7 linked regions of the Homo sapiens genome follow. The protein of the gene in region 4 purifies or fractionates together with the protein of the main gene of each other region. This does not show direct contact. Each region holds a gene or a part of one and is shown on either strand. Other genes may lie near its edges. The genes, in order: WAPL, ATF6, RAB4A, SCCPDH, CPT2, DNAJC11 and PAIP2.

Region 1 (3,500 bases), on a different chromosome or scaffold from region 4:
TGGTGGTGAACCATTGTACTCCCAACTACTGGGGAGGCCGAGGAGGGAAGATGGCTTCAGCCCAGGAGGTAGAACCTGTGATAAGCCATGCACTCCAGCCTGGATGAGAGAGTAAGACCCTGTCTCCAAAAAATAAAAATAAAAATAAAAAAAGAAATAATAGGTCTTATCCACTTCTCTTAAAAAGAAGCTGATTTTCGGTATGATTTAAATATATTCTACACAACAAATACATTCAATAAATAAAGGCAGGTAACTCTTGCTGATACTATCCTTTCAGGACTTAAAAAATAATAATAATCCTCATATCATCTGTACTTTATCCAATGACAATCTCATCTCAGATCACAAGTTCCTGTCCTACTTTAAACTTTCAGTAATAAAACATTTCCCTTTCTAAAAAATCACCTTCAGTTCTAAATCCAAGTTCAAAATCTCCTGACAATACCATCCCTCTAACTTACACAAATACTCATTACAGCTTTAAGCAAATTAAAAAAATTTATTGGCTACAAAACCAGTCAGGCAAATTAAGAGCCTATGCTGTAGTTATCTCAATATTTGGCAGGATATGTAGACTGAATCCCAGCTGGCTGGCAAGAAAAGTGTGCCAAGCCGAAATATAAGTCTTTGCACACTTTATTCTAGAGTCCAGATTAAAAACCTGTAGCAGAACAAAGATGAGAAATGGAAGTAGCCTTGCATAAAAGGCAAGAGAAGCCTTCTTTTTGCCTCTACTACCGACGGCATTGATTCAAACCATTAAGGAATACCTGGAGATCTCTTAGAAGGGTGGACCTTTAGCTCCTGCTAACAGTCATTTTTAATTGGCACACCTGGCTGAGAACTGACTGGCTTTAATAGCAACTGCAATCAGAAATTTCTGTTTTCAAAATTAAAGATTAGATACAGAAGTATTTGCAGATAGAAACAGAAATCTTAAACTAGCTTTAAAATCCAGGGAGTAAAGGATGGGAAGTGGAGAGAGTAGCGTGCAAAACAGATGCAACAAGATCTGCCAGATACAACTATTGGAGGTGGACAATCAAGTACATGAGGTTTTTTTTTACCATTCTATTTTTGTGTGCCTGAAAAGTTTCATAATAAACGTTTTCTTCTTGTTTAAGGAACAGGACATTTTAGCAACACAACCCTTCCCTGCAGTACCTATTCAGTTTGTAATCTTGTTTCTGGTTCCCTTACCCACCAAGCATCTGTCTGGAAAATGGGAACTACTGTAGGTTTTGCGGGGTTTTTTTGTTTTTGTTTTTTGAGATGGAGTCTCGCTCTGTTGCCCAAGTTGGAGTGCAGTGGCACCACCTCGGCTCACTGCAACCTCTACCTCCCCGATTCAAGCAATTTCCGCTAATTTTTTTGTATTTTTAGTAGAGATGGGGGTTTCACTATGTTGGCCAGGCTGGTCTCGAACTCCTGACCTCAAGCGATTCACCCGCCTCGGCCTCCCAAAGTGCTGGATTACAGCCACTGTATGTTTTATAGTGACCTCATCCTAAGTTTCCTCTTCAAGTGAAACACAATTTATTTATTTACTTATTTATTGAGTTGGAGTCTTGCTCTGTCACCCAGGCTGGAGTGCGGTGGCATAATCTCAGCTCACTGCAACCTTCACCTCCGGGGTTCAAGCAGTTCCCGCCTCAGTGTCCTGAGTAGCTGGGATTACAGACATGCGCCACCACACCTGGTTAATTTTTGTATTTTTTTTAGTAAAGACGGGGTTTCACCATGTTGGTCAGGCTGGTCTCGAACTCCTGAACCTCCCCCAAAGTGCTGGGATGACAGGCATGAGCCGCCACACCCGCAACAAAATTTTTAAAAGTACTATCCGTTATAAAAGTACTTAAAGAATTTTAACAGTGTCAAAAAAATCAACCACATACTCCCCTATAGAGAAAGAGATGCACTTAAAAACGTAATGCCAGGACAAATGACATAATAATTCTGAGCCTGGATAAGCCCTTTTCACTGAGGTGATATAATTCTACAGCAAAAAAATAGTATGAACGAGAAGGACACTCAACACTCCACTGGAAAGATATGACGGAACTTCACCTGTGCACTTTGAATGAGTTGTTAAAATTTGCAACAGGTTTTTAAATAAAATGCCTAACCATGACCTGCAAAAGACTGCTAAGATTTCTGAGACCCAAGTAGGTACATGAATACTTGCATCTGGAGAAAAGAGTTCAAAACTTTATCATTCTCAGAAGGGTCCCTAAAGCAAAAAAGGTTAGGAACCACTTGAGATTTAGAGAGGCCTCTTTTATCAAAAATTTAGGTTTGGGTTTCTAAATTTCAATTAAAATTACAAGGTTTTCTGAGTGAGAGTAAAGGCAATGAAAATTGACAGACATAATGCAAGAAAACAGTCTAGGCACAAGAGAAATGACCAGTTTAGAGGGGAGAGACAAAGGAAAAGTCACAAAGTACAAAAGCATCCCCACAACTATAACAAACTTACAAACATACAAACTTACAAATGGTTTATAAGAACAACTAACTTGCACACATTAGAGACAGGATAAGTCTACCATGAAAATTAAATGCACTCCCTCAAATTCACTTCTTATCCTACAGGGAGCTGCCAAGGTTGTTGCAACTCTGGATGACCAAGGGAGAGGAGAAAAAAAGAAATATTCATAGTGCTACACCATTCCCTGACCACTAAGAGACCCTTTGTGAAGGAGGAAGGAAGATGGACAAGATGTTCCTGAACATCTATTTACCTGTATTTTAGTATGTATTTTCCCCTCACAGACCAATTAAAATGGAGTTTGGACTCAGAGTCAGTCCACAGTATCAGCATTAGAACTACATTTTAGCTACATAGACTGGGAAGCAATTATCCCACTTAGCTGGTTGGTCTCACCAACCAACTTCCAACAACAGATTTAACATAAAGATATATTGTCCGCAAAGCTACAGAAACAATTACTTATGAATAACTTCCACATTCCTTTTCCCCCTTACCTAAACGTTCAACTTTATTAATACACTCTGCCATCAGGGCCCCTGCCTGCCAATGATGCCCCATTCCTCAAAAGACCATACACTTAAGGAAGATGGAGTCAGCCCTGAGCACTTTCACCACTTGCACAGTTTAATCTTACTTCCTCCGGCCCACCCACCCCACACTGTAGATTATCTGAAAACATCAAGAAATGTCAGGCTGGGCACAGTGGCTCACGCCTATATTCCCAGCACTTGGGGAGGCCAAGGCGGGTGGATCACATGAGGTCAGGAGTTCTAGACCAGCCGGGCCAACATGGTGAAACGCCGTCTCTACTAAAAATACAAAAATTAGCAGGGCATGGTGGCAGGTGCCTAAAATCCCAGCTACTCGGGGGGACTGGGGCAGGAGAATTGCTTGAACCCGAGAGGCGGAGGTTGCAGTGAGCCAAGATAGCGCCATCGCACTCCAGCCTGGGGGGACAAGAGCGAGACTTCATCTCAAAAAAAAAAAAGAAAAAAAAGAAATGTCA
Region 2 (3,500 bases), about 85 Mb from region 4:
TGTCAAAGAGACTATTGGATATGTGACTCTGGAGACTCAGAAGAGAAGTCTGGACTGAAAACATAAATTTGAGAGTCATCAGGACATATAGATATGAACTGTGCATGAAATTATAGATGAGTCACCTAGGCAGAAAGAAAATAAAAAAAGTTTACAGTTCCAAACCTTGAGAGTTGGGTAAAAAAAGAGCCCACAAAGATTACTGTGAAGCAGCAGCCAATAAAAAAAGGAAACTAAAAAACCATAGTAACACAAAAGGAAAGTCTTTCAAGGAGCAAATGACCCACACAGCCAAATGCTGAGGAAAGGGCAAGTAAGATGGCAGAAAGCACTGGCCCCTTAACAGAAATAACTCTGGCAGAGTGGAAGGCTAACTTCAAGTTAAAAGTTAGAGATAGCTATTTATGCCACACACGAGAGAAAAGAAACAATAGCAGAGGATATATAGAACATTCTTCCCTGCAACTTGCACCAGGAATATTCTCAATGTCCTCTCTTGTGGCTGTAAGGGTTAAGTAGGTTTAAGTTGTTTGGAATAAAACAGACATGTTGGTGCACAGGTAATGAATGCAAACACAAAAGGATCAGCCTAAAATGAAGCATTGAGTGAGAAGGAAAAAAAGTATCTGTCTTGTGTTTGATAAATCTGAATGCCTCTAAGAGGAGGCTGCTTAACACCTCTTCTTATAAATCTATGACATACGCATTATTTTAAAAATCATGCCTGCATACTTAGAAAAATACAAACACTGTAGTCCATGAGAAAAGTCCAAAACTGCTTTTGAAAATATATTTGTGATCTGAACTCTAGTAATGATTTCTGCACATCTGTGCTAACTGGCTTTGTTCTATCAGCCAAAAATATTCTTTGGAAAAAAAAAAAAAAAGTCTGATAGGAGAAATACCAGGACAAGGATTGGGTGGAGTTAAAGGAGAGAGAAAATCAGCCAACATACAATCTGGAGACAATTAGACCAACATTAGCCCAGGAACAGTCAGAGTTCGAGTCTGCTTGCAAACATTTTATGCCAAGAGAAAAAAATTCAACAAATAAATCATTAAAGTAAATAAAGTAAAGGACAGTGCTAGGGAGCTAGAGTTAATGAGAATTCTTGGAGTAAAGATCAGTTCTGGGTGACATCTTATATAGGGTGACCATCCTTTCTCATTTATCCAAGACAGCAGTACTGGTATTCTGATGTAATTATTACTAGCACTACCTTTCCTTCTTAAGAGTGTCCCAGTTTGATAGAACATTATATGGTCATACTATTTATATGCCACACATTTCTATGACTGAAAAAATATAAGCAGTTAATTACTAAATGATAGGCTAATACAATATTATAAACTATGGGATTAGAATCTACTCATTTTTTATTTGAACCATGTCTCATAGCTCTCCTTAGAAAAAGAAACATAAAGTAAGCTGCATTAAAAAAAATGTATAGGTATCACGGCTGAAAATAGATAAAACATCTAAAATTCAGTTCAGAACACAGAACAAAGTAATATTAGGTGCTTTCAAATGTTTCACAAACATTTTTTGGTATCTTTTATTCAGTATTTATACTGATAAAATCAAGAACATCAAATTAATGGACTGACATTTATTTAAATCTCTCAAGTTGCTGAAAAATATTTCAAAGGACTTGCATGGAATCAAGAATCCATAATCTTTCCTGGGTTGTTTTTTGGTTTTTTTTTTTCCCCAAGACCAGTAACCCAGATTATTCACTCAATGGTGACTTTGGAGAAGGGAGGGAAAAAATAGCTTGCATCCCATGTACTACTCTGAAAGCTGATAAATTTCAGCCAGAAAGTCATTCAGACTTTTAGTTTGAACTAGTATGATCAGACTACTATGCTTTCTGGGAGCCACCATGTTATCTTATGCTAATGTGGAAGGCTTCTACTTGCTGCAGTTAGTGCAGAATAAATAATATTCTTGTAAAGCTTACCTGAACTGTAATTTCAAGCATTCAATCCATAACTTGTTCTATTCTTTAGCAAGACGCTATCTCAACTCTCGTAAATCCAAAGGCTATTAGATTTAAATTTAATTTTTGATGGATCTTATGTGGACACTAACAGAATTCAAAATTATAGAACACGTAGGGCAAACCTGCACAAATTACTTATGAAAATTAAATATACTATTAAACTCTACCAATATTCAGGGGCACCGTTAAGAGATCATCAAGGTGAATATTTTAAGAAGTATGATGAATTTTGGCATGTAAAAAAGCAGGAAATGCTATGTTTTCCAACATTATGACATCTATCATTGCTATGTTGCGTTGCAGCTACTGCCATAAAATCCTTTGGGTCCTCCACTGACTTGGCATACTGTACTCCACAAAAATAACAGTTTTTTCAGGAAGGCTAAGTGGAGACAAGCCTGCAGGATTGTGGTGATCATCTTTCAACAGTATGGATGTAACACAGTAAAAATCAGGAAGAAAGATTGCCCTCAACCTACAAATCCTTAAAGAGATAAAAGTAAACAAATCTGTAATAATTTTCAAGCATTATACTGTGCAATAGTTACCATACTGTGACCTCCCTTTGCCTTGTTAGTCAAGGACCTGGCTCCATTTGGCTCTAATACAAATTCTAAATAACACAGGGAAATGTTTATCAAAAAGTATACAACTATAAAAATGTCCACTATACCTTCTTCTAGTTAACATAATATAGAAATTGCATTTTTATACAATTAAAGCCTTTTGCTATTGACAAGCAATATGGAAATTTATCAAGTCATTATTAAATTGCAACAAGGGAGGGATTCAACAAAGATCACAATAAATGAGTATAAATGATTTTACCTAATGACTGCAAATAGGTTCAATCATGTTATTCCACCATATCATATCCATCCACAGGTGAGACAGTAACAAATATTAGATGTATTATATGTATAAACACATGATAGATAAAATAATTATTAAAGACATTATATATAATATGTATATATTTCAATATGTATATTAATGCACACAAACTGAGATTTTAAGATTACATCTCTATAGGAATTTTAAAACTACAAAAGGTTTCAAAGTAAATTTAATTTTACAATATTAAAAGTAAAATGTATTAATGGTTTCAGTAATTTATGTGTTCTACTACTCAAAATATACACGAACAATTTAGATGCAATGTTATACTACAGATAATTCTCTTGTTTCAGCTTCATTAAATCACTTAGGCCAAAAGATAGATGCATGCCATCTTACCTGTAGCTGTTTTTCTGGATAATACCATCTGATGTGTCCTGTGCCTCTTTAGCAGAAAATCCTAGAAGGTGCCTCCTTTGATTTGCAGGGCTCACACTAGGGTTCATTCTCCTGGAATCCTGTTCCAACATGCTGAAAATAAAAAACAGGAAATAATAGCTGAAATAAAAATATGTCACACATATGCCTGCTACATGCAGCTGTGAAACAAACCACAATTCCTTTGCAGATCCATGCACGTAACAAAAATGCTAGGCATAG
Region 3 (3,500 bases), about 17 Mb from region 4:
GTCACCACAAATATGACCTACAAGTGTTTACACTTTTTAGGGGACTATATTGCAATCTGTCATACAGCCCATGAAGAGACAGTATAGGAATTAATACTCTTTCTACCCACCAGAGTGGCTGTTCATCTCAGCAGAAAGGCCTGTTCTGCTTGCTCTCTCAGCAAACCATGGCCTCTCTAGCCTCTTGTATCCTCACTTGTAAAAATGAGTTTAGATGACATCTAAATTCCTTTTCATCTTTGTTAACATTCTAAACTTCTGATTTCTAAACAGCTTTTTAAAAACTGTCATGATGGCATATGGATTTCTCTCATGTTTATTTTCTTAGCAAGAAACTAGTCAAGTTACAATATAATTTGGAATCTTAGAGTCCAAATATTGATATTAGGATTCTAGTTTTTGGTTCTAAAAATTAAAGTTATTTAAAATGTCTGAAGTTTTAAAAAATCATTCTCTTATCCATTAATTAAGCAACCATTAATTTTATGTGGCATTTTCATGTATTCTATATGGAAATTCAAAAAAGTTTCAAAGTTGTCTATAACCAAATGACTTAAAATGAAGCCAAAAAGCCAAGTATTTCTTCTTCCGCTTCCCTTTCTATTTGGGTTAATATTTCACCAAATTTCCTTCAAAATACATTAAAAAATAATGACATCATTTGGTTAGAGTCTTTAAATATTATTAATTTCACTTTAGCCCAAGATCTCTAATATTCAAAGACCCTAGACTGAAAAGTCATTACATAATGTTACTACATTTGCTTTTATCATTATAGTAACTTCTGCAGGCAGAATGCAATATACTAAAAATATGCTTAATAGGTCTAATTTATAGAAAAAAACAATTGGAAATTCCACATTTCCTAAATCTAGTTTAATCTTGAAATTCCAATATATGTTTTAAATTCAAAGAAATGCTATTATCCTCAAATATGCGATTTGAAAAATAGTAAGAAGTAAAAGGTCACTTGCCATTTTCTTGAGCAAATCTGGAGGCTTCTAAGAAGGTAACTTCACGATCTGCATCCAGGTCCTTCTTGTTTCCACAAAGGATGATCACAATGTTCTGGCTCGCTAGCATTCGGGCATCTGTTAACCAATTAGTAAGCGCATTGTAGGTTTCTCGGCTGCGTAATATAAGATTGTGAAAATAATACATGTATTTTATAAAACTAGCAACTCTTTCCAGTCATTCTCACTACTCATACCGCTTTTCAACATTTCAGGGTAATGGCACCAACACCTTTAAGATAACTCAGACAACGTGAATGCACCAAGTATATACCATACCCACAGTTTGTTCCATTTTGTTTCTGGTAAAATGAGACAGCAAGTGAGATATTTTGTTATTTTTCGTTTGCCCAGTCATGGGGCAAAAGGAAAGAGATGTTCCTTCATTCAATTGACAAATATCTATTGAGCTCTTAGCATGCGCAAGGCACTAGACTCTGGTAGGCAAGATTTCATAGCTAATTGCTGCCACTTAATGAATCCTTGCAATGTGCCAGCACTTTGTTTTACAGGACTTTATCACATTGATTCTTTATAAAGATTCCATGACACAGACTGCCATTATTCCCCTTTTCTCTGAGAAATCCAAGGCCCAGAGAGATTAATTACGTTGCCCTAGGTCATACAGCAGCCAGTGGCAAAGTCAGGACTTGACCAGCTCTGTCTGACTCCAGGACCAACTCTCAGACTTACTATTTTTGGCCCTCATGTGTCTAAGGATTGAGTTCTTCTCATGGCACTTTGCTAGCCTGATTGATGACTTCACACTTTAGCAGGCTGAGCCTTTCACTGCCTGGGCAAGTGCAGGAAGGGCTGGGCCAGAAACTGCCTTCCTCCTCTCAGAACGCCTGGCTCCCGGGACACAGATTGGAAGAGGGAAGCGGCTGCTGAGTGACATCCTCTCACTGGACAGGTTCCTACCCAGAAAGGGCCCCCAGATGATGCCATTTAGATGACACATTTCTAAGACAGTGCTACTGAGATCAGCACTGCTGAATGTGATTTCCTCATGGATAGGAATGTTCTATAATCTGTCCTGATATGGTAGTCACCAGCCACATGTAGCTACTGAGGACCTGAAATGTGGCCAGTGCAATCGAGGAACAGAATTTTTTATTTCAGTTAAATTGCCATATGTCACAAACAGCTACTAACTGCTTCACATTAACTAATTTAAACCTCCCAATAACCTCCTGAGGATCATGTGATTATTACTATCTCCATCTTACAGACAAGGAAACTAAGGCCCAGGCAGCTGAAGCACCTGGCCTGAGAGGGTCAATCAGCTAGTGACTGCAACTGGGATTTGAACCCAGCAATCTCAGCCCAGAGTCTGTGTCCTCACCCTCTCTCAACTCACTTCTAATAACTTTCCATACATAAAGCTTTGTGAACCTTAAGGAAAGTGTCCAAGCATCATGTCAAGAAATGTAATGTAATAGCATGGATTGCTTTATCCACCTAAAACCTTACAAACACATTTCTCTGCAGGGGAAAGCAGTGGTAGGGGCTCGTTCAAAGACCTCTGAGACCCCAGATGGAAGGGCTAAGGGGCTTCCTGGATGCCAGCCACACCACCGTCCCTGGACACACAAAGCACACACTGCACGGAGGGCACCTCGCCAAGACCAGCCTTTGGGCTGCAGGGCACTGAGCACCCTCCTTCACCAGGGGGAGCTGGCATTACCTGGTGATATCATAGACGAGGAGAGCCCCGGCCGCGCCTCGGTAATAACTTCTCGTCACGGACCTGGAAGAATTATACTGGTTTTACTTTCAACCAATTGAGACCCTTTACTGTATCCCACTTTCCCATGAAAAAACACCCATGCTTGCTTTGTAAACCACAACACAGGGACAGACACTGGTTTAAAAGAGAAATGATTCAAAGATATTTGAACATACATGTGAGGGGTTATTCTGCCTGAAATCACATCACTGTGGCAAGTAGGAGATTCCTTCACAGCGGATGCAGCTCTCTGATGGATGTCTCCTTTGAGAACTCCTAGCAGGGTGAGCTGTCTGCGGAAGCCAGCACCACCCCCTAGATGGACACTAAGGGGCTCAGCAATCCACTCACTTCTCTGCGAGCTCCTCATCTACCCCACTCCCTGGCACAATTTTCTCCATCTCTTCCAGTTCTCGCCACCTCTCGGCGCGGTGGAATCCATAGTCACCACAGGAATCCATAGTCACCACGGCCCTACACCCACCTGCATCCCTGCCCTATTACTACGGGAAAACTGAGTGTCCCAGTATGTCATATCCACTCTCACATTCAAGAAGGCGTCTTTTGGTCATACATGTTTTCCCCTACATTGTCAATCTCACCCTCTTTGTGAGATTTTTCCCATTAGTGGCCGGACACCTATAATCCCAGCACTTTAGGAGGCCCAGGAGGGAGGACTGCTTGAGGCCAGGAGTTTGAGACCAGCCTGGGTAAGAGAGAGAGACCCTGTCTCTACAAAAAATTAGCCAGGTATGGCA
Region 4 (3,500 bases):
TAAGGAGTTGGGCACGTTGGCTCATACCTGTAATCTCAGCACTCTGGGAAGCCAAAGTGGGTGGATCACTTGAGGCCAGGAGTTTGAGGCCAGCCTGGCCAACATGGCGAAACCCCATCTCTACTAAAAATACAAAAATCAGCCAAGCATGGTGGTGCACGTCTGCAATCCCAGCTACTCAGAAGGCTGAGGCATGAGAATCACTTGAACCCAGGAGTTGGAGGTTGCAGTAAGCCAAGATTGCGCCACTGCACTCCAGCCTGGGCAACAGGGTCGGATCCTGTCTCAAAACAACAACAACAAACCTATTAAAGAACCAGAGGGCTGGGTGCGGTGGCTCACACCTGTAATCCCAGTGCTTTGGGAGGCCGAGGCAGGCGGATCACGAGGTCAAGAGATCGAGACCATCTTGGCCAACATGGTGAAACCCCATCTCTATTAAAAATACAAAAGTTAGCTGGGCGTGGTGGTGCACGCCTGTAGTCCCAGCTACTTGGGAGGCTGAGGCAAGAGAATCGCTTGAACCTGGGAGTCGGAGGTTGCAATGAGCCAAGATCATGCCACTGCACTCCAGCCTGGCGACAGAGTGGGACTCCGTCTCAAAAAAAAAAAACCCAGAGTATTTAAAGAACTTTTACAAGACAATAATAGAAATAAAGACAATTTATTTTAAAAATGGGCAGGGGATGTAATCCTAGCACTTTGGGAGGCCGAGGCACGTGGATCACCTGAGGTCAGGAGTTTGAGACCAGCCTGACCAACATGGAGAAACCCTGTCTCCACTAAAAATAGAAAATTAGCTGGGCGTGGTGGCAGGTGCTGTAAACCCAGCTACTCGGGAAGCTGAGGCAGCAGAATCGCTTGAACCCGCGAGGTGGAGGTTGCAGTGAGCCGAGTCTGCACCATCGCACTCCAGCCCGGGCAACAGTGCGAGACTCCGTCTCAAAACAAAACAAAACCAAAAAGGCAGGGATGAGAAGAGACAAATCTTCTTTGTGGAAGAATTCCAAATGATTTATGTAGCTTCTCCACATTTATGTGCAAGCAGCTGTGTGTGTGACTGAGTGTGTTAATGTGTTTGTATGTGTGTGACTATGTTAGTGTGACTTAATGTGTTTGTGTGTGCATGAGCAAGTGTGTGTGTGTGATTGTGTTCGTGTGTGTTTGTGTATGTGCATGAATGGGTGTGTGTGGTGTGTGTTTGTGTCTGGTATGTGCTTGAACAGGTGTGATTGTGTTTGTGTGTCACCTTCTGGGAGAGGGAGCATAAATTGACAGTGGAGAAACCTGGTGAACACTGCCTCAGCCAGGTGTTCAAGTCAGCATTAACCCTGGTAAATCATGTTGACAGTGCGTAGCCCCGATGTGATATGATATGATAAGAATAGCACTTTACCCCTGTGGTCTCTTTCCAAAACTCATAATAATAATGAGAAAAGCATGAGACAAATTCCAGTAGAGGGGCACTCTACAAAATGCCTGACCAGTACTCCTCAAAACCATCAAGGTCATCAGAGACAAGGAAAGTGTGAGAAACCGTCGCAGCCAAAAGAAGCCGAAGGAGACGTAACAACCGAATGTAATCCTGGATGGGATCCTGGAGCAGAAAAAGGGGTTCAGTTAAAACTAAGGGAATCAGAATGAACTGTGAACTTTAGTGAATTAAATCATATATGTCAGTACTGGTTCATTAATTGTAACCACTGTTCATGTAAAAGATGTTAAAAATAGAGAAAACTGGGTTTCAGAGTACTTGGGAACTCTCTACTATTCAATTTTTCTGTAAATCTTAAACTGTTTTTAAAAAGGAATTTCTAAAAACAGGCAGAAGAGCAGAGCAGACATTATTCCCCTGTGCCCTCTGCCACCATCTACTTTCCTGCTCTCTGTCTGTACGTGTGCGGAGCTTTATGTCTGTGATGATGTTCATCTGGGTAATGCTGTTTGGGGTCATTTTTTTTTTGCTTTCTATTTTTTATATTTTAATATTTTATAATAGGCATTACTTTTATATTTAAAAGTCATTCTAAAAAAATTAAGTGTCATACAGTCAGACGAGCACAACTTCTGTACCACCTGGTGTGCAGTAGGCGCTGTATTTGCCGAATAAGTGGAAAATATTTTGACAGTTAATGTTTTGCTGCAGAGCCACACTGCTTAGCATTTTCAAAGTTTGGTTGCTTTGTTTTTAAAGATAAATTATTTAATACTGGTCTACATCTTTCTGCATAACTAATTAAAATTCTTATCCTGGATTTTTTAGTTTCTGGAACTAATGCAACTGAAGTATCATGAGAAAGCTGCAGACAAAGGGGTTTATATCATTGGAAGCAGCGGCTTTGACTCCATTCCAGCAGATCTGGGAGTAATATATACCAGAAATAAAATGAATGGTAATTATTGATCAATAAGCAATAATGGAATTTAACAGTACCGTGCAAAGGCTTCATGTTTCTAACTGTGGTGAACTAAAATCTAGTTGAAAAAAGAAACATAGCCATAAATGGGTAATATTAAACACATGTTTTGTTTTTAATATAGCTGCACTTTTAATAAAATGCTATTGAGACTATTGTTGAGACATGGATAATACTGTATTTTACAGTGATATATTATTGTCTCAGTATAGTTTGGGCTGTAAAATTTCTGGAAAACAACTTTGGCAACGTTATAAATTCAAACTTGCTTTGTTTAGGAATCAGCACATTTTAAAGCATAATTTGTATATTATAGTTAAAAGGTTTTAAATTTTTAACCGTCAAAGCTAGAAAGTATTGAACACAGAATTGGAGACACTTATTTAAGAATGGAGAAAATAATGTTACGATAAAACATTTGAAGTTACTGATGTTTTGCATATTTAAGAGTGTCTGGTTTAGAAAATTACCTGAGCAGGGTGTGGTGGCTTACACCCATAATCTTAGCTACTTGGGAGGTTGAGGCAGCAGGATCTCTCGAGGCCAAGAGTTCAGGACCAGCCTGGGCAACATAGTAAGACTCGTCCCTAAGAAATAAAAAAAAATTAGCCAGGTGTGGTGGTGCACACCTGTAGTCAGTCCCAGCTCCTCAGGAGGCTGAGGTAGGAGGATCACTTGAACCCAGGAGTTTGAGGCTTTAGTAAGCTATGATTGCACCACTGCACTCTAGCCTGGGTTACAGAGTGAGACCTTGTCTCTTAGAAAAAAGCAAAAAAACAAAAAAACAAAAACAAAAAACAAAACTGAAACAGGTAACTTCAGTACCATATAAAGTGTTCTAGACTTAAAAAATTGGAAAATGTTCCAGCATATATTAAAAAGTTAGCATAACTATGAAACCAAAGTCCAACAAAGATAGCACACACACACACAAACTACAAATCTTGCTTATGAAATTAAAAGTAAAAAGAAAATACTATATAAAATTTTAATCCAGTGCCATTTTAAAAAGTTTTTTAAGAGACAGGATCTTGCTCTGCCGTAGCTCACCGTAACGAATGCCTGGGCTCAGGCAGTGCTCCC
Region 5 (3,500 bases), about 190 Mb from region 4:
GCTGTGAAAATAAGGGGATAGGAAGTATGTGTATACACATCCCACATATGTGGTGGGATGTAAAGTACTGCTGAATTCTAATCTTCTACAGTGAGATGTCAATAGCTAATGACTAAAGCAAAAAAATCAAGATGCAGTAAGGTAAGTATCTAATTTAGAGATACGGGGGTATATAACAAAAGATTTAGGAGCTGAAAGTGAGAAGTGGGAAATAAGATGATGAGGAAGTTGCTGTTTTTCCTAACAAGCCTTATAGAACTGTCTGATTCTTTAAACTATATGCATGTATAACCTTGGTAAATATATAAACTAAATTAAAAGAAGTGCTGTAGGAACAGAGGTGGAAGCAACCAACTCTGAATGGAAAGGAAAAAGGACTGAGAAGGTTTCACAGAAAACCATCCTCCTTGGATCTTAAAAGAAGAATTTGCCAGGCAAAAAAATGGTAGTGGGAACAGCATGGATAAAGGCACAAAAGAATGAAAGACTAAGGGTTCAGGGAGCAATGAGGAGTTTAGCAGGAAGTATGTCAGGGTGGGTGGTGAGAGAAGAGGCTGGAGAGGACAGTTCTGTCTGACAGTGAAGGACCCAGAATGATATAGGACATAGGACTTAATCCTGCATCCTTTTCAGACAGGACCATTGATTAGGTTCTGCCTCAATCCCATCTACAGAGAAGGCTGGCCATCATTCTTGAGCATGGGCTCAAGTCAACACCTCAGTAGAGGAGGAACACACTCAGCCTTAATTTACCTCAGGAAGGGAGGATGAGACGTTACTTCATTTGCTGGTCTCACCAAAAATATCTCTGAGACCAAAACAGGAGAGAATATGCCTTACTTTTCATTATGGAGGGCTCTGGGAGAAATCATACCCACAGCCCAGCCTACCTACCCGAAATGTAGCTTGTATGTTTATTCTGTTTGTCCAGAGCAACCAGCTGCTCATGCAGTTCTTTTCCAATCCCATTTTCAAAACTCTTGCAAAATTGTTCTGTTTTCCTAAAACATTCAAGAAAAGACAAAATCAAACCATGGTAGGGAATACATGATTTTTAGGTTCATGGCGAGGAACTCATAATAGAGTTTTGGGTCCCCAACAGCATAGCCCTAAAACCTGGAATGAGATCAGAAAGTACCTCTAACCAGAACAGGAATCAATCTAAAATTGATAATCTAGACTACCTTCTTAAAATGAATGATTAGGAAAATCAATCAACATCTCACAAAATAATCCATATCCTAGGAGGCAGTTTGGCATGGAGAAAAGGACACAAGCTCTGGAGTCAACAGAAGTTAAGTCTGAATCCTAGCTCTGTTGCTTTTCAAACTGTGTGATCTTGGATAAGTTACTTGATCTGAGTCTCGGTTTCTTGATGTGTAAAATGGATAATAATACCACTTTACAAGATTAAAAATATTTATAAAGCTAAGGATTTAGAATATCCTAAAACATAATACTCAATAACTGGTAGCTATTACCATATCAAGAGAAACTTTAAATGACTAATAACAAATATTTGAAAACAGAGGCCTAGATTATGGATAATTCATCTGCTTCTCCATCACTGTCCAGTGAAGAGTTCTGTGATTCCAACAACAATGCCAGTTACCTGTACAGAAAAATTTCCATTATGGAAAAAGAGTACTACACTAGGCTATAAGAGCTTAATGCAATCCACTTTTTGACAATATTTGATATTATTTTCCAATTCCATGCTGTATTTGCTTCCTAGGACTGCTATAACAAAACACCACAAACTGGGTGGCTGAAAACAACAGAAATTTATTCTCTCACAGTTCTGGAAGCTTTAAGGACAAAATCCAGGTGTCAGTAGGACTATATCTTCTCTGAAGACTGGGGAAGAATCTGTTGCATGGCTTTCTCTTAGATTCTGGTGTTGCCAGCAATCCCTGGCATGCCTTGGCTTGTTGACACAGGCAGAGGACACAATCTCTGCCTGTGTCCTCACACCGCTGTCTCTGTGTCTTCTTACAAGGACACCAGTCATATTTAATTAAGGACCCACAATACTCCAGTAGGACCTCATCTTAACTAATTACATCTGCCACAACCCTAATTCCAAATAAGATCATATACTAAATTTCATGAAAAAGGGCATAAATTTTGGAGGCATGCTATCCAACTCAATAAACATGCTCACGATGCAGACTTCTGGTCTGCCGTATGGTCTCCTCAATGGACCTCCCTTCCAAGGGTACATGCTCTCTATAAATGACCAGGACCAGCGAGCCTCCCAGGTACACCTGCTAAGGGAAAGTACACATTTGGCATTCTGGCTTATAAACTATCTCCTGTTGAGCCTGTTTAGAGGAACTCTCGGGGCTTGGTCAGTCCTTCATGAATGAAAATCTATTTCCTGAACTTGCAGATGTACAACTAGGTTCTGGGTTCCTGGAGACCCAGCCACGTCACAGACATTCCCTGAAGCTTGGTCCACCACTACTTGCCAGCCTGTCTTGAACCACCCCAACTATGCTCACCCAAGGTTCTCAGTGTTTACCTGAACTGGCCATCATTCAAGAGAGGCTTCTGTGCACTGAGGTATCTCCTAATGGTGTCTTCAAGTTTGGGAATAGGCAGCCTGGGGAGAAAGCAGGGTCAGTGTAAGGCTGACAGTATATGGAAGAGGTTAATTAGCTTTACAAGCTAATGAACTGATTACTAGATCATTAATTTCCTCCCCCAAAACCAATAATCAGAAGCGACTGACAAATCAGAATCAATGGGTTTACTAATGCCAAGTATATCAATGGTAACTCTACTTTTAAGTAAAATAACAACTAAATCTTTAAGTAAAATACAAATATAATTATTTTAAATAACAATAATAGATTCAAAATGGGGAAGCAGAAGCTGCCCCAAGAATTCCTGTTTTCTGGTCACAATGATAACACCTGTGCTAACACTGTATTGGCCCTGATTTAATTCTACCCTTAGTTTGAACAACTGCATTTTTCTCCCCTAGGATAAAATGAAAAGGTTCTATTTTTTAAATTTTCTTCTGCATTTTACAACAAATAATTATATAAGAGTGAAACACAGATCTGTCCAAGGGCCAGCCATATATGGGGGCTACAGTCACTAAAAGGTAGGAATCGACCAGTGAGCCATGCCCAGATACCAGGAACGCCATTAGGAAGAACCAAATAGTCCCTGTGCTTAAATAACAGGAACAGCAATTTGCCTACTTATCATTCTGTCTACTAGTGATTCCCAAAGATGGCTATGGTGATGAAGTTACTGGCTTATTGTGAAATGAAAACACATGGACAGTAAAGTGAGGTGTATTTTCTCTTTCAATTCATTGGTTTTATTGAAGGAAATATCCCCTAATAGCAAAACAATCAGAGTTTGTTAGGCTGCCTCTACCAACTCAAAATTAACACTGATATGCAAAATACTGAAATGTATCAGTCATTTAGGAAAACTGAAACATGATACATAAAGCAGTTTAAAAGCCTAATATAAGATATACT
Region 6 (3,500 bases), about 240 Mb from region 4:
GTAGAGATTAGGAAGAGAAAGCTGGACAAATATATGAGCTGGAGATTGAGGGGGTGGTCCAAGCTGGCACTTGCAACGTGAGTCCTCAGGGCATGAGAGCCATGAGGCTGGACATGACTGCTTGGGAGTGAGTCGAGAGAGAAGGGCTGTGCCCTGCAGTGGTGCCTCCATTTAGGGGTTTGGGAGACAGCAGCCATCTGGTACGGAAAGCCAGAGCAGGGCGTGGTATCCTGGAAACTCAGGGCAGAGAGGCTGTAAGGGCAGGAGGGAACGGCCACCGCGACAGCAGGTGCAGAGACCAAATGAGATGAAGAAGAATCACCCTCTGATCTGCCACAGGAGGGAGGGTGCCCCACTGATGAGGTGAGAAAGGCTGATTCTGGAGAGGGCTGGTTTTGCTGGAGAGGCCTGACTGGAGCACGTTTAGAAAGAAAGAAGACGGATGCAAGCGAAAACAGACATTTTTTTTTTTTTTTTTGAGTGGAGTCTCGCTCTGATGCCCAGGCTGGAGTGCAGTGGCGCCATCTCGACTCACTGCAAGCTCTGCCTCCCGGGTTCACACCATTCTCCTGCCTCAGCCTCCCAAGTAGCAGAGACTACAGGCGCCCGCCACCACGCCCGGTTAATTTTTTGTATTTTTAGTAGAGACGGGGTTTCACCGTGTTAGCCAGGATGGTCTCAATCTCCTGACCTCGTGATCTGCCCGCCTTGGCCTCCCAAAGTGCTGGGATTACAGGTGTGAGCCACAGTGCCCGGCCAAAACCAGACAACTCTTTTGAGGAACTAAGGAGAGGACAGTGACTAGACTCAGGTGGAGCAAGGGTATGTGTGCCAATGGAAACCCCTGGTGAGAGGGATGAACCGATATGGCAGCTGCTACTGGAGATGCTGTGCCCGGGGGATAGCTGCCAGGCCAGTGACTCCAGGAGGACTGGGCTGCTAGGATGCATCCTGTGACATCAGGCGAGGCTGCTGGAGCTCAGACGTACACCTCACTCACTCGGTGTTGGAACTATGCACTGCTTGACATTTGCTTACTCAGCAAAGACACAAGCAACTGTATTTTTTTTTTGAGATGGAGTCTCACTCTGTCACCCGGGCTGGAGTGCAATGGAGCGATCCTGGCTCACTGCAAGCTCCGCCTCCTGGGTTCAAGCGATTCTCCTGCCTCAGCCTCCCGAGTACCTGGGACTACAGGCACCCGCCACCACCCCTGGCTAATTTTTTGTATTTTTAGTAGAGATGGGGTTTCACCATGTTAGCCAGGATGGTCTCGATCTCCTGACCTCGTGATCCACGGCACCTGGCTGAATTTTTTTTTTTATATTTTTTGAGACGGAGTCTCACTGTCCTCCAGGCTGGAGTGCAGTGGCACGATCTCCATCTCAGCTCACTGCAACCTCCGCCTTCGGGTTCAAGCAATTCTCCTGCCTCGGCCTCCCAAATAGCTGGGATTATAGGCGTGTGCCACCACGTCTGGCTAATTTTTGTATTTTCAGTAGAGATGGGGTTTCACCACGTTGGCCAGGCTGGTCTCAAACTCCTGACCTCAGGCGATCCGGCCGCCTTGGCCTCCTAAAGTGCTGGGATTACAGGCATAAGCCACTGCACCTAGCCAAGCAACTGTGTCTTTAAGAACAAAATTACAATGCAAAGGCTATTTCAGCCTTAACTTGGGTAAAGCCTGGTTGAGTGAAGGTGACAGGCATTCCTTGACCCGAAAGGCCTAAGTTCAACTTACTTGACTTTGAGAGAAACACCCTGTGGAACTCCAACGCTGACAGCTGCACCCAAAACGCTGTGCCTGGAGATCTTCCTCTCAGCTCCGTACTCCACCACCGTCCCAAAGAAGCCTGCTCTGCAGGGAGAGAACGCGGTCTGTGCCTGTGCCCCTCATTCATCACTTCAGGGGCAGCTGTCATTTGAGAAGAGGCCAGGTACCTTCCCTTCCCTCCCTCCAGCCTCCTCGACCCCCAGGGAGCAGATTCATGACAGAAGAAAGTTGGGACACCCATGGTCTAGTTCTTCCACAACACTCTCTAAGCTCCTCAAGGGCTGGGACTGTAGTGTTAAATCCCCCACAGCCTCAAAATAGGAAGCTCTCCAAAAATGTCACACACACGTAGATATTCACACGAGCAAGGTGTCTTACACCAACTGGTTCCACTGTGAAGACCCGCATGCAGTACCAGTGTGCTTCCATTTTAGCCAGGCCAGGACTTACTTGAGGGATCCTTTCACACGAGTCTGATCGTCATCTTGGAATTTGTGCTGATAGCTGATCAGTGCAAAGGAGTGAGGGATTCCCAGCTGGGGAGACAGAGGGTGCAAGGATGCGTGGCTAGGGCGTGTGACTCTGTGGGGAGATGGGTATCTGCCCTCCCACTAGCTCTGGGCATCTGCTGCACACAGGCCTTTAAGGCAGGGGTCACGGTCTGGCAGCCGCAGTGAGTGCACCATGATTTATTAGCAGCCAGTAATTAAAAAGTGGGAGACTTCACTGAAAACCCAGTTTTCTAGCTTCTCACAAGAAATAAAAAACTCTGGTGACACTGAGCCTATGCTCCTAGGTGGCAGCGGCTGGTGAGAGCCAAGGAGCAGTGGCCCGTGTGGGGCTTCTCATGTACCAGCCCTGGTGTGGCCACAGGGGCGTCCGAGGGCATGATTCTGCTATGGGGCTTCATCTGCCCGCCCCCAATTCCGTGGGTGGCTCCCACCAGACATTAAGATGTTGTTCTGCTTTAAGATGATCCAACAAAGCTGCCCCAGGCGCCTGAAGGCAACTGCATTTCATACTCGAAGGTTCCACCAGGTCACTCGAGTGTGAGCACCGAGAGCCTGCCCCTCAGGGCCCTGTATGGGCTTAGACTTAGTGGTGATCAGGACGCAGGATTTAAGGGGAGCACTGAGTGCTTGGGAGGAGGGGTCCTCCCAGAGCTCTGTCTGCAGGAGATGATGGCTGCTCGGCTCACCTGCAGGGCCACAGTGAAGTGGCTGGTTTTAGTGTCTCGGACGATGCTAGTGTTCATGGCTGACTGGATACCCCATCGCCACTGCAGGTAGCCCACGGTGTTCTTGTCTAGGTTCCGAGCTAGGACAGTGGTCAGGCCGGGTCGGATTCCACGGGATGAAAACTGCAGAGCACAGTTTGTTGTCACAAAGCTGGAGAGACACAGAGACAGAATAGGTCCTGGATAGCACCTGCTCTCAGCTGTTCTGTTACTTCCTCTCTGCCTGGCTAAGACCTCACTTACTGTCACGTCTATGCATCCCTGGGCCAGCTCCCAGTAAAAAAAAAAGCAGGAGGTCAGGCCTCTATCCACACAGAGGGGGAGGGTCCTAGCCAGAATCTTCCTAGTAACCTCCCGACTCCCCTCAGCCGCCCTAACTTTAGCTACAACCAAATAGGCACCTGACTGTCTGCATTCCTATGCCAGCAGATGCAACCCCACTCAAGTTAGAATGGATGGGGGCCGAGGAGTGCAAGTCAGAATCACCAA
Region 7 (3,500 bases), on a different chromosome or scaffold from region 4:
AGCCAGGCTTGGTGGTGGTCCCCTGTTGTCCCAGCTACTCAGAAGGCTGAAGCAGGAGAATTGCTCGAGCCTGGGAGGCAGAGGCTGCAGTGAGCCAAGATCACGCCACTGCACCCCAGCCTGGGTGACACAGCAAGACCCTGTCTCAAAAAATATAAATAAATAAATAAATAAATTCATCACTCGTAGTTTTTTTTTTTTTTTTTTTGACATGGAGTCTCACTCTGTTGCCCAGGCTAAAGTGCAGCTGCACGATCTCGGGTCACTGCAACCTCTGCCTCCTGAGTAGCTGGAATTACAAGTGTGTAACACCATGCCTGTGCCTGGCTAATTTCTGTATTTTTAGTAGAGATGGGGTTTCACTATGTTGGCCAGGCTCGTCTAGAACTCCTGAACTCAGGTGATCCGCCCACCTCGGCCTCCCGAAGTGCTGGGATTACAGATATGAGCCACCACACTGGCCGAGTTGTTTCTTATATTCATCATCTTCCCCTAACTTCCTATCTTTGTAAAATAGTTCAAAAGGCTACCTGAGGATTTATCATTCTAAGCCAGTGTCCAAAACATCTTTTTTTTTTTTATGGATGTACCACAGTTTTTTAAAAATTATTATTATACTTTAAGTTTTAGGGTACATGTGCACAATGTGCAGGTTAGTTACATATGTATACATGTGCCATGCTGGTGTGCTGCACCCATTAACTCGTCATTTAGCATTAGGTGTATCTCCTAATGCTACAAAACATCTTTTGCCTTCATGTTTGAATAAAAATGTTGTATGGCCTGGCGTGGTGGCTCAGGCCTGTAATCCCACCACTTTGGGAGGCCAAGGTGGGTGGATCATTTGAGGTCAGGAGTTCTAGAAAAGCCCGGCCAATATGGTGAAACCTTGCCTCTACCAAAAATACAAAAATTAGCCGGGCATGGTGGTGGGCGCCTGTAGTGTCAGCTACTCAGGAGGCTGAGGCAGGAGAATCGCTTGAACTCGGGAGGTGGAGGTAGCAGTGAGCCAAGATCGCGCCACTGCACTCCAGCCTGGGCGACAGAGCGGAACTGTGTCTTAAAAAAAAAAAAAAAAAAAAAAAGTTGTAACATGAGTATTTCCATGTAAATGTGCTAAAAAAAAAATTAGTTGTAACAGAATTCTGAGATGTCTGTGCTTCCTGTTGATAATCTATTGTCAATAATTCCAACTTTCAATGTTGTAGAAAATCAATTTTCTTTCCTTTTAAAAATCCTGTTCTAGGCTGGGTGCAGTGGCTCACACCTATAATCCTAGCACTTTAGGAGGCCAAGGGAGGTGGATCACTTGAGGTGAGGAGTTTGAGACCGGCCCTGGCCAACATGGTGAAACCCCATCTCTAGTAATACAAAAACTAAGCCAGGCATGGTGGCGCACAGCTGTAGTCCCAGCTACTCGGGAGCCTGAGGCAGGAGCACTGCTTGAACCTGGGAGGCAGAGGTTGCAGTGAGCTGAGATGGTGCATTCCAGCCTGAGCAACAGACTGAGACTGCATCTCAAAAAATAAAAATAAGCTGGGCGCAGCAGCTCACGCCCAGCACTTTGGGAGGCCAAAGGGGGTGGATCACGAGGTCAAGAGATTGAGGCCATCCTGGCCAACTTGGGCGAAACCCCGTCTCTAAAAATGCAAAAATTAGCTGGACATGGAGGTGCACGCTTGTAGTCCCAGCTACTCGGGAGGCTGAGGCAGGAGAATTGCTTGAACCTGGGAGGCAGAGGTTGCAGTGAGCTGAGATGGTGCCACTGCATTCCAACCTGAGCATCAGAGGGAGACTGCATCTCAAAAAATAAAAATAGGCCAGGTGCGGTGGCTCACGCCTGTAATCCCAACACTTTGGGAGGCCAAGGGGGTGGATCATGAGGTCAAGAGATTGAGACCATCCTGGCCAACATGGTGAAACCCCGTCTCTAAAAATACAAACATTAGCTGGGCGTGGTGGCACATGCTTGTAGTCCCAGCTACTGGGGAGGCTGAGGCAGGAGAATCACTGGAACCTGGGAGGCGGAGGTTGCAGTGAGCCAAGATTGCGCCACTGCACTCCGGCCTGGTGACAGAGCAAATCTCCGTCTCAAAAAAATAAATAAAAATTTAAAAATCCTGTTCTAGACGACAGCTTAAGATGTTTTAACAAATTCATATATTTCACCAGATTTTGGATAGGTAAGAGCAATTTTTTCCCAGTACTACTGCCTGGAAGTCAGCAAACCCTTTCAATTTATCAACTTAGGGCTTTATTGTGTCTTCAGCTGTTTTTCCCCTCCTGAAATGCCTCTTAGACATATTGGTTTCCAGCAGTGTCCTTTTATATTGTCTATGGAATTTTAAAATACAGAAATCTTTTAGGTTTTACAATCTTTCTCCACTAGTTTCATCTTTTAAGAATTCTCATTAAAATTCAAATATAGGCCTGGTGCGGTGGCTCACGCCTGTAATCCCAGCACTTTGGGAGGCCGAGGTGGGCGGATCACAAGGTCAGGAGATTGAGACCATCCTGGCTAACACGGTGAAACCCCATCTCTCCTAAAAATACAAAAAATTAGCCAGGCATGGTGGCAAGCGTCTGTAGTCCCAGCTACTCAGGAGGCTGAGGCAAGAGAATGGCATGAACCCGGGAGGTGGAGCTTGCAGTGAAATGAGATCATGCCACTGCACTCAGGCCTGGGCAACAGAGCAAGACTCCGTTTCAAAAAAAAAAAAAAAAAAATTCAAGCATAGTTCTCTTCTGTTTCTTTCATTAATCTACCTCCATAGGCACCATCTTTTCTCATTCCCTTGGACTCTGTTTTGAACCACTGTGATCCTTACCTTATTTGCATATTTTTTAATCGTATTTTACGCATATATACGTTTAAGCATACTTCCTTTGGCAGTTAAAGAGGATCGCAACATTTTTCAATTGGTCTGTTTTCCACTCTGAAGTCTGTGAAAAGCACCGAATTTTTTGTTTTACTATTTGGCACAGTAAGGTAACGATTAAAAAACATGGGCTCTGGGCTGGGCGCGGTGGCTCACACCTGTAATCCCAGCACTTTGGGAGGCCAAGGCCGTTGGATCACGAGGTCAGGAGATCGAGACCATCCTGGCTAACACGGTGAAACCCCGTCTCTATTAAAAATACAAAAACAAAAGTAGCCAGGTGTGGTGTCGGGTGCAGCTACTCAGGAGGCTGAGGCAGAAGAATGGCATGAACCCTGGAGGTGGAGCGTGCAGTGAGCCGAGATCGCGCCACTGCACTCCAGCCTGGGCAACAGAGCAAGACTCCGTTTCAAAAACAACAACAACAACAACAACAACAAAAACCCATGGGCTCTGGAACCAGGCTGCTTTACTAACTGTGTGACCATGGCAAGTTACTTAACCTGAGTCTCGGTTTCCTCATCTGTTGCATGGGAATTAATAATAGTACCTAGTTAGAGAACCTAGCACATAACAATTGGCATTAACTATCTCGGTGATTAAATATTTAGGGCAGTTAAA

What was found.
Region 1: the proteins of SCCPDH (region 4) and WAPL purify together in Homo sapiens (affinity purification with mass spectrometry; 3 studies listed by BioGRID and IntAct, with this or other methods). This does not show direct contact.
Region 2: the proteins of SCCPDH (region 4) and ATF6 purify together in Homo sapiens (co-immunoprecipitation; one large-scale study listed by IntAct). This does not show direct contact.
Region 3: the proteins of SCCPDH (region 4) and RAB4A purify together in Homo sapiens (affinity purification with mass spectrometry; 3 studies listed by BioGRID and IntAct, with this or other methods). This does not show direct contact.
Region 5: the proteins of SCCPDH (region 4) and CPT2 fractionate together in Homo sapiens (co-fractionation; one large-scale study listed by BioGRID). This does not show direct contact.
Region 6: the proteins of SCCPDH (region 4) and DNAJC11 fractionate together in Homo sapiens (co-fractionation; one large-scale study listed by BioGRID). This does not show direct contact.
Region 7: the proteins of SCCPDH (region 4) and PAIP2 purify together in Homo sapiens (affinity purification with mass spectrometry; 3 studies listed by BioGRID and IntAct, with this or other methods). This does not show direct contact.

What each region holds. Positions count from the first base shown.
Region 1 is NC_000010.11:86,511,793-86,515,292, forward strand, and holds part of WAPL (wings apart-like protein homolog), read right to left. Parts: intron 1-3,500. UniProt on the Homo sapiens protein: Regulator of sister chromatid cohesion in mitosis which negatively regulates cohesin association with chromatin. Involved in both sister chromatid cohesion during interphase and sister-chromatid resolution during early stages of mitosis.
Region 2 is NC_000001.11:161,846,320-161,849,819, reverse strand, and holds part of ATF6 (cyclic AMP-dependent transcription factor ATF-6 alpha), read right to left. Parts: intron 3,372-3,500; coding exon 3,240-3,371; intron 1-3,239.
Region 3 is NC_000001.11:229,295,111-229,298,610, reverse strand, and holds part of RAB4A (ras-related protein Rab-4A), read right to left. Parts: intron 2,764-3,500; coding exon 2,701-2,763; intron 1,130-2,700; coding exon 975-1,129; intron 1-974. UniProt on the Homo sapiens protein: The small GTPases Rab are key regulators of intracellular membrane trafficking, from the formation of transport vesicles to their fusion with membranes.
Region 4 is NC_000001.11:246,737,909-246,741,408, forward strand, and holds part of SCCPDH (saccharopine dehydrogenase-like oxidoreductase), read left to right. Parts: intron 1-2,263; coding exon 2,264-2,393; intron 2,394-3,500.
Region 5 is NC_000001.11:53,199,824-53,203,323, reverse strand, and holds part of CPT2 (carnitine O-palmitoyltransferase 2, mitochondrial isoform 1 precursor), read right to left. Parts: intron 2,606-3,500; coding exon 2,525-2,605; intron 1,002-2,524; coding exon 895-1,001; intron 1-894. UniProt on the Homo sapiens protein: Involved in the intramitochondrial synthesis of acylcarnitines from accumulated acyl-CoA metabolites.
Region 6 is NC_000001.11:6,642,817-6,646,316, forward strand, and holds part of DNAJC11 (dnaJ homolog subfamily C member 11), read right to left. Parts: intron 3,163-3,500; coding exon 2,973-3,162; intron 2,311-2,972; coding exon 2,225-2,310; intron 1,859-2,224; coding exon 1,742-1,858; intron 1-1,741.
Region 7 is NC_000005.10:139,344,854-139,348,353, reverse strand, and holds part of PAIP2 (polyadenylate-binding protein-interacting protein 2), read right to left. Parts: intron 1-3,500. UniProt on the Homo sapiens protein: Acts as a repressor in the regulation of translation initiation of poly(A)-containing mRNAs. Its inhibitory activity on translation is mediated via its action on PABPC1.